Linked DNA regions of Homo sapiens: region 2 is linked to region 1. The links come from fine-mapping of genetic effects on gene expression. A gene starts in region 1. The other region holds a variant in brackets. All regions are shown on one strand. Distances are between the middles of the regions. Region 1 holds the start of MINDY2 (MINDY lysine 48 deubiquitinase 2). Region 2 overlaps RNF111 (ring finger protein 111).

Region 1 (4,393 bases):
AGCTCGTAGTAGATAGCGGTAGAAGAAACAGTGAAAGTCTTAAAGTCTTTGATCTTTCTTGTAAGTGCAGAGAAGAAAATGCTGACGTATGCTGCCTTCTCTCTCTGCTTCAGCTACCTAAAAGAGAAGGCCCCCGCCATCCTGTAATCACGTGACTTGCTTCATCTTGTCAATCACTTAAAAGATTCACCCTCCTTACCCTGCCCCCTTGTCTTGTATGCAATAAATATCAGCGAGCCCAGCCGTTCGGGGCCACTACCGGTCTCCGCATCTTTACGGTAGCGGTCCGCCGGGCCTAGCTGTTTTCTCTTTATCTCTCTGTCTTGTGTCTTTATTTATTACAATCTCTCGTCTCTGAACACGGGGAGAACACCCGCTAAGCCCCGTAAGGCTGGACCCTACAGTTGGACATATACCATAGTATCATGTCAATGCGGATCACAAGGTCAGAAGTTAGAGACCAGCCTGGCCAAGGTAGTGAAACCTCGTCTTTACTAAAAATACAAAAAAAATTAGCTGGACCTGGTGGCGTGCGCCTGTAGTCCCAGCTACTTGGGAGGCTGAGGCAGGAGAATCACTTGAACCCGGGAGGTGGAGGTTGCAATGAGCTGAGATGGCGCCACTGTACTATAGCCTGGGTGACAAAGCGAGACTGCGTCTCAAGTGGGAAAAAAAAAAAAAAAAAAAAAAAAAGGGGCACAGTCTTCTGCATTCTCAGGTAAACAAGAATATAAGTATCCAACATTCATGTATTATATGTAATACATATTATGTGTGGCCGGGCATGGTGGCTCACGCCTGTAATCCTAGCACTTTGGGGGCCGAGGTGGGCAGATCACGAGGTCAGGAGATCAAGACCATCCTGGCTAACACGGTGAAACCCCGTCTCTACTAAAAATACAAAAAGTTAGCTGGGCGTGGTGGCGGGCGCCTGTAGTCCCAGCTACTCAGGAGGCTGAGGCAGGAGAATGGCGTGAACCCGGGAGGCGGAGCTTGCAGTGAGCCGAGATCGCGCCACTGCACGCCAGCCTGGGCGACAGAGCAAGACTCCGTCTCAAAAACAACAACAACAACAAATTAGCCAGGCATGGTGGCGGGCGCCTATAGTCCCAGCTACTCGGGAGGCTGAGGCAGGAGAATCGCTTGAACCCGGGAGGCGGAGGTTGCAGTGAGCCAAGATCGTGCCACTGCACTCCAGCCTGGGCGACAGAGAGAGACTCCGTTTCAAAAAAAAAAAAAAACAAAAGCAAAAACAAAAACAAAAAAACATATAAGTATGTATTAAAAAATAGCAATAAGAAAAAAAAAGACAGTAAGCTCCATGAAGATATAAGCTCCGTGATCCACTATGGCATCTCCAGTGACAGACAGCATCCAGCAACTTACTTGGTACTAAAATGTATTAAAGGAATGAATGAAATACTACTTTGCAATCTTGTCTGCCTTCTCTAACCAACAGAGGTGCAAAAATATCACATTCTAATTATGTATCAGGTATTTATATGTCTGCGAAGGAAGACCTGTCTCGTTAATTTTTTATCCCCAACAGCCTAGAAAATGTTGAAAGAAAAAAGATGGGGGAAAAAGCCCTTTTCTGTAACAAGTTAGAATAGGACCCACATACATTTTGTTACTAACAAAACGTCCAGCTTGTCTTTCTTCTTTGAAAACTGCATGGCCTTAAGAGGAGTCCATTCTAATTAGGAAAAAAGTCACCTTTTCAGAAGCAGGCGCTTCCCACTCCATGCAAAGTGAAGCCAAGTTAGCAAAACCGCAAAGACTTGGCTAATTCAAATACAAGCTAATTTATTATTATTGGCGCAAATTAGCCACTTTCTTTTGCTACGCATGTCAATGTCCACAATCATACCGACCCTTTCCTGTAGGGCGAATGTCTCACCAGTAGCTGGTGAGAAGCACAGCTCTTCTCAGCCAAAACCGACAGAGACTGGAATTTGTGCAGTGCAGTAATCCAAAGCCGTCGAGTAGATATGCCTGCTTTAAAATCTGCATCTCGTAAGAAATGCCTTAATTTTCCATATTAGGAGCTGAGAAACCAAGTCCCCTGAGCCCTTCAGGGACAAGTTCTTTTCCAAATACTACAACCACCTCCAACCACCCAACAATGCCTCAGGCCGAGGGTGGGCCACACGCGACCCAGCGCTAAAGGGTCACAGCCAAGCTGTCCGCCTCCTGCCTTCCCTTTAAAGAAGCCGCACACAAGGGAGCTGCCCGGGAGTTCAACTTCCGGCCACATAGTGAGAGGATGTTTTCCTACTGGAGCTGAGCCGCGGGGGCGCGCCCCCCGGCCGCGCCCTCCTAGCCACGCCCTCCACGCCCGGCCTTCCGAGAGCGAGCTCGGTCGGACGCACGGAAAGGGCTGGGCCACGTGGGCGGCTGCTGAGTGGTTCGCCTTCGCCTCTCAGCGCGCAGTCAGGCGGAGGCAAGCTCAGAGCGCACGGACAGAGCGGTAGCGCGCGCCCGCGCGCGTTCTTAGTACTCTCCCCGGTGACGTGCCTGACCGAGGCCGCGCCAGGGCGCTGTTGCTGCCAATACAGCTGTCATGGCGTCCAAGGCGCTGGCTGCGGAGAAGTGGCCGCGGTCTCCATAGAGCTGGGGGCGGGCGGCCCGGTATGGAGAGCAGCCCCGAGAGCCTGCAGCCGCTAGAACACGGGGTGGCGGCCGGGCCAGCGTCAGGGACAGGTTCTTCGCAGGAAGGGCTACAGGAGACCAGGCTCGCCGCTGGTGATGGTCCTGGGGTATGGGCGGCGGAGACCAGCGGCGGGAATGGGCTGGGGGCGGCGGCCGCCAGGAGGAGCCTCCCGGACTCGGCTTCTCCCGCGGGCTCTCCTGAGGTTCCCGGACCCTGCAGCTCCTCCGCGGGTTTGGACTTGAAGGACAGTGGTTTGGAGAGTCCTGCTGCCGCCGAGGCGCCTCTGAGAGGGCAGTACAAGGTGACCGCCTCCCCGGAGACAGCCGTGGCCGGAGTGGGTCATGAGTTGGGTACCGCCGGAGACGCGGGAGCCCGCCCGGATCTCGCCGGCACCTGCCAAGCAGAACTGACCGCCGCCGGCTCCGAAGAGCCCAGCAGCGCCGGCGGCCTCAGCAGCAGTTGCAGCGACCCGAGCCCTCCTGGGGAATCTCCGAGCCTGGACTCTCTGGAGTCGTTCTCTAACCTGCATTCTTTTCCCAGTAGCTGCGAGTTCAATAGTGAGGAGGGAGCGGAGAACAGGGTCCCTGAGGAGGAGGAGGGCGCGGCGGTGTTGCCCGGGGCTGTTCCTCTGTGCAAGGAGGAGGAGGGGGAGGAGACCGCTCAGGTGCTGGCGGCCTCCAAGGAACGCTTCCCGGGACAATCTGTGTATCACATCAAGTGGATCCAGTGGAAGGAAGAGAACACACCCATCATCACCCAGAATGAGAACGGACCCTGCCCCTTGCTGGCCATCCTCAATGTTTTGCTCCTGGCCTGGAAGGTACATTCTGCAGCTTTCTACTTCCTACAGCTTTTGGGGTGGAGGAAAACGGGGTGAGGGAGCTGCTGCATGTCAGGTGATGGCTTCCTTTCTTTCCTCATTCATCAGTCCCCTTCTTACATGAAATTCATTCCAAGACTTCCATGTTGAAGGAATATTCCTTTATACATATATCGAAAAGAATTGCCCCTAACCTCAGTCTTCTCTTGTAGTGTTTAAGAGTTCAACATTCAATTGTGGTTGATACACTTAGAAACAAGAAGGACTTAGAGCATCTTAAATCTTATGATTATTTTAAACTATAATTTCCTACATTTTCTTACTGACCTTATCACATATGCAAAAAAGTGAAGAATTGGAGAAAGTAATCTTCAGAAGTTACCATCAATCCGTGATATCATGGACTAAGTTTTCATGGTTATATTTAGTTTGATTTCCAACTAATGCCCCATTTGTGTGTAGATACTTAAGAGAATGGTGATGGGGAAGATGTGGCTCTTTAGACAAATTCCATTTAAGGAAAAGCATTGGTCTGAGACCCAATTACCGTAACTTCTTGGTTTTCAAAGATTGTTTTCATTTTATGCATGATTTTTACTTGCCTCATTTCTTTGGCTCTCCTTAAATGGTTTGGCATTATTACCAGTAACCATGCATCCGAATGTGTTAAGGGAGCTAAAACTCTAAAGAACTAAAATAAGAAAAGGTATGTCTAAGGTGAAGGAGCAAAAAAGGGAAAGACCCTTAAAAATAGGTATGTTGAGGACTCAGAGCGAGTTACCTGTCAAATGAAGTGTCTCATTTAAGCTTGCAGTGTTAGGGTGCTGAGAAGATGCATCTCACAGCACCTATTTTATTTTCAAATTGATAATTATATCTGTAGATGCAATGTTTCCTAGGAAAAAAAAACAAAACAAACT
Region 2 (4,393 bases), 290 kb after region 1:
GAGACCCCCCTTCTTTTCAGATTTAATTGTCGTGACTATGCTTTGGATGGATTTATTCCTACCGTTCTCAATTTTAAGCAACCATTTTAAAATTAGTTCTTTGAAACTTAACTCACTCATAAGTTGAAGTCTACCTGAAATTTCTTTTACTTTCTGATAGAAAAATGTTAATTTTTATTAGAAAGCACTGATGAGTATTAATATTTACAAAATTTTCTTTGGAAAACATATAAAAAGGCATGGAAAGGAGATTAAAACAGTTATTGGAAATCATAGCTAATGCTAAGTGATTACTCTCTGTAAGGCATCATACGAAGTATGTGATCTCAGTTCATCCTAATGACAGTTCTATGAAGAAAATTCTGATGCTTTCCCAGTTCTACAGATGAGGAAATGGAGAATGGTTAAATAACTTATTTATATTCATACTGTCAGTGGTGAAATCAGTATTGCTATCCAGGCAGTCTTACCCTAGAATCCATATTGTGTCAGACAGTGTGGTTTGTAACACTGTTCTGGCAGCTCGTGACCATGTGTACGTGCATAGTAAGGAACTTTTATTTCCTTTTACTGTTTTCTTCTTTGTGATAGATCAGACAACTTATTTAGAAGCTACCTGAAAAACTGTTAAATCACCTAAATTATTGGAATAAGCATATCGGTGTTGGATTTTTTTAAAATGCAGTAATATTTTGGTAACACGTCTGTTCGATATTGCAGTTTAGCTTTGTGAACGCTTTCTTTACCAAATGTTATTAGAGAGCTTGTATTTTTAAAGTTTTTTTATTTATTAATTATAAACACATTAGCTTACATTAAAATATAACCCTTTATCTAATTTGTTTTGAAATGCTAAGTTGACATTTTGTATTTTGTAGAACCTACTGTAGTACCAACCACTTCTGCAAGAATGGAATCACAAGCTACTAGCGCTTCCATTAACAATTCAAATCCATCTACCTCTGAGCAGGCCTCTGATACTGCTTCAGCTGTCACCAGTAGCCAACCTTCCACAGTGTCAGAGACTTCAGCTACTCTTACAAGCAATAGTACCACTGGCACTTCTATAGGAGGTATGTAAAAAAGTGGGGGAGGGGAGACTTTTTGTCATTACTTTCGTTAGGAAAAGTATTATTGTTTTTAAGTCTAAGATTTTAGCTATGTTAATAAGCGGGTATTCTTACATTATAATAAACTTCATATGTTATCAAGGTAGTCTTTATTATAATTAGGCTGATTTCATATTTGAGTTTGTGTGCTATATGTAACCAGAGTATTATAGCTCAAATAAGAGAGCTTGGGGAGAAGCAAATGGCTGACACCAAAAGCATGAGCAACAAAAGCAAAAGTAGATAAGTTGGACTTCATCAAAATTTAGAACTTTCGTGCATTAAAGGATATTATCAAGACAGTGAAAGACAGCCTACAGAATGGGGGGAAGAAAAATATTGCAAATCCTTTATCTGATAAGCACTTTAGAATCCAGAATCTACAAAGCACTCTTAAAACTGCCCAACAGGCCGGGTGTGATGGCTCATGCTTGTAATTCCAGTACTTTGAGGGGTTGAGGGTGGAGGATCACTTGAGACCAGGAGTTCAAGACCAGCCTGGGCAACATGGTGAAACCCTATCTCTATTTATATTTAAAAAATAAAAAAGTAAAAAGAAACAAACAAAAAGCCCCAACCCAACAGAAAGACAACCCAATTTTAAAATGAGAAAAGATTTGAATAGATATTTCTGAAGAAGTTATGCAAATGACCAAGAAGCACAAGATGCTCAACATCACTAATCATTAGGGAAATGCAAATGAAAACCACAATGAGATACCACTTTGCACCAACTAGGGTGTCTATAACACAAACAAAAATAGAAAATCACCAGCGTTGGCAAGGATGTAGAGAAATTGGAACCCTTGCGAATTGCTGGTAGGAATGCAAAATGGTGCAACTGCTGAGAAAAACACTTTGATGGTTCCTCAGAAAGTTAAAATAGAGTTACCATTGGATGCACTAAGTCTACTCCTTAGTTATCTTCCCAAAATAATTGAGAATGGGGATGGGAGTTTTTAAAATTTTGGTGATATCCATTTTCTGGGGTTTTTTGGTTATGGTTTGGTCTGTTGGTGTCATATCTAAGAAACCGTTGCCTAATCCAGGGTCACAAAAATTTATTCTGGAGCTTTCTTTAGTTTTAGCTCTTATCTCAAGCTAGTTCTTACGTTTCAATTAGCAGTGATATCTCTGGCTCTCTCTTATATCCTTTGTTTAACTGAGCCTTAAACTAACTTTCTTTCATTTTTGGATAATGGTACAGAGATAGGAACTTGCTAACTGCTTAC[C/G]AATAGGGACACTGTAGACCCTGTAGCTTGTGGATTGACTAAATCACCATTAATAATGAAACCATCTTATATTTTCTATCCCTTTTTGCTTTTAATAATATCTCATTTAATTCTTTTAATATTCATGTAATTTACATCTAGCAGATTAGAAAACTACATGTGGCTGGATCAGGAAGTATTCTCTCCCCTGGAAAACTGAGGGCAGAATTGAGAAACATTCTCAAGGAGATTTCCCAGGAGTATCTTTTTTGTTTTTTTGGCCCAGGCCAGTCTTGAAGTTCCAGGCTCAGGTGATCCTCCTACCTCAGTCTCTCAAGTAGCTAGGACTACAGGTGTGAACCACTGTACCCAGGGGTGTCTTTTAAAAACATTCTCTGAAAAAATGTAGGCAGAAATGAAATGGGCTTTTATTTCATTTGTTGAGTACATACTCTTTTCTTAGCTTGTTACTTGGGTATCTTATATGTTATTGTATATATTTTAATTCTTAAAAAAAAAAAAATCCTTGACATGGTGAGACTCACACCTGTAATCCCAGCTCTTTGGGAGGCCAGGGACGCAGATCACTCGAGGCCAGGAGTTCAAGACCAGCCTAGGCAACGTGGTGAAACCTTGTCTCTTTTGAAGAAAAAAACAAAACAAAACAAAAAAACAGAAACTTGCAGAAATTAGTGAGGCTTGGTGACACACACCTTTAGTGCCAGCTACTCAGAGACTGAGTCAGGAGAATCATGTGATCCTGACAAGTTGAGGCTACAGTGATCCTCGAGGGCACCACTACACTCCAGCCCAGATGACAGAGTAAGACCCTGTTTTAAAAAATAAATTATTGATGTTGGCATTTCTCTTACCATTTCAGAAATGAAGAAACCTGAGAAGTTAAGTACCTTGACAAAACTGTAATAATTTTTGAGGCAGGGATTTGACTTCTCATTGACTCCTGTCTCCTGTTGTAGCTTTATGTAGCATTATTATTATTATTATTATTATTTTTTTTTTTGTGAGACAGGTCTGACTCTGTTGCCCAGGCCTGTGTGCAGTGGCACAATCTTGTCTCACTGCAATCTCCACCTCCCAGGCTCAAGTGATCCTCCCGAGTAGATGGGGGACCACAGGCATGACCACCACGTCCGGCTAATTTTTGTATTTTAGTAGAGATGGGGTTTTGCCATGTTGCCGTGTTGCCCACACTGGCCTCAGTCTCCTGGGCTCGAGCGATCCACCTGCCTCAGCCTCCAGAAGTGCTGGGATTACAGGTGTGAACTACCACCCTCGGCCTATGTGTAGCATTATTCTTACGTACATTTTATGTGATACAGTCCCAACTTTATTTCAGAATATTCCAAAAACTTTTATATATAAATCTTTGTTCATTCACAAATCAGATTTAATTTCTGAGCATCTTGGCTACAGTCCTAAATGGGCCTCTCTTAAGGTCAATTTCCTTCCAGGACCCTATGGAACATTAGTTCAACTATGTTCTCCACAACCCGTCCTTATCTTGTACCTTTTTGAATATTTCCAACCCTCACATTCAAGCCATCTAGCTTCACACTTATCCAAGTTCCTCCGTAAATTTATGGTTTCGAATCCTGGGCTTTCTGTAGGAAATCACCATTGTCTTGATCAGTTCCCTTTCGTTCCTCTAAGTGCCTATTTCAAAACACTCTCCTTTTCCTCAAGGTTTTCATTCCCCAGGGGAAATTTTAAAAAAATGAATAAATGAAAGTTCTTAAGCATGAACTCCTGCAACTTCCAATGCCTCCATATAAACTTTTGTGGCTCTCTACCTGTCCTCCTCTACTAATTCCTAGTCTCCTAACTCCTTCCTTTCCCTTCCAGTTCCTTTATCTGTGCTCTACCTCTTATCCTTTCCTTTGTCCTTAACCTTGCTTTAACTGTTATCTTCCTTGTGTCTTCGGCATCTTCTCTGGTTTCATTTCCTTAGTACATGCACATGTACACTTGTTTTTGTCTGTGTACATTTAAGTGTATTTTTGTCACACTAAACTCTTTCCTCTAATGGGCTTCTGACTCCTTTCATAATGAATA

Evidence for each region. PIP is the estimated chance that this variant, and not a neighbour inherited with it, causes the effect. A credible set is the group of variants that fine-mapping cannot tell apart.
Region 2: its variant is the best candidate, but not a certain one, in a credible set for the expression of MINDY2 in whole blood (INTERVAL, PIP 0.79).

Annotation. Positions count from the first base shown.
Region 1 is chr15:58,768,763-58,773,155 of GRCh38, forward strand. It overlaps MINDY2 (MINDY lysine 48 deubiquitinase 2), which reads left to right and starts at 2,540. Exons shown (of 9, transcript NM_001040450.3): 1 at 2,540-3,473. The coding sequence starts at 2,634. It overlaps MINDY2-DT (MINDY2 divergent transcript), which reads right to left and starts at 2,212. Exons shown (of 2, transcript NR_135474.1): 1 at 1,625-2,212; 2 at 1-117. RefSeq lists an enhancer at 1,477-2,402 and a silencer at 2,215-2,494.
Region 2 is chr15:59,057,478-59,061,870 of GRCh38, forward strand. It overlaps RNF111 (ring finger protein 111), which reads left to right. Exons shown (of 14, transcript NM_017610.8): 5 at 879-1,073. Among named protein-coding and RNA genes, the nearest start is that of CCNB2, 45 kb to the right of the region's middle. The variant C/G (reference allele first, on the strand shown) is at 2,342.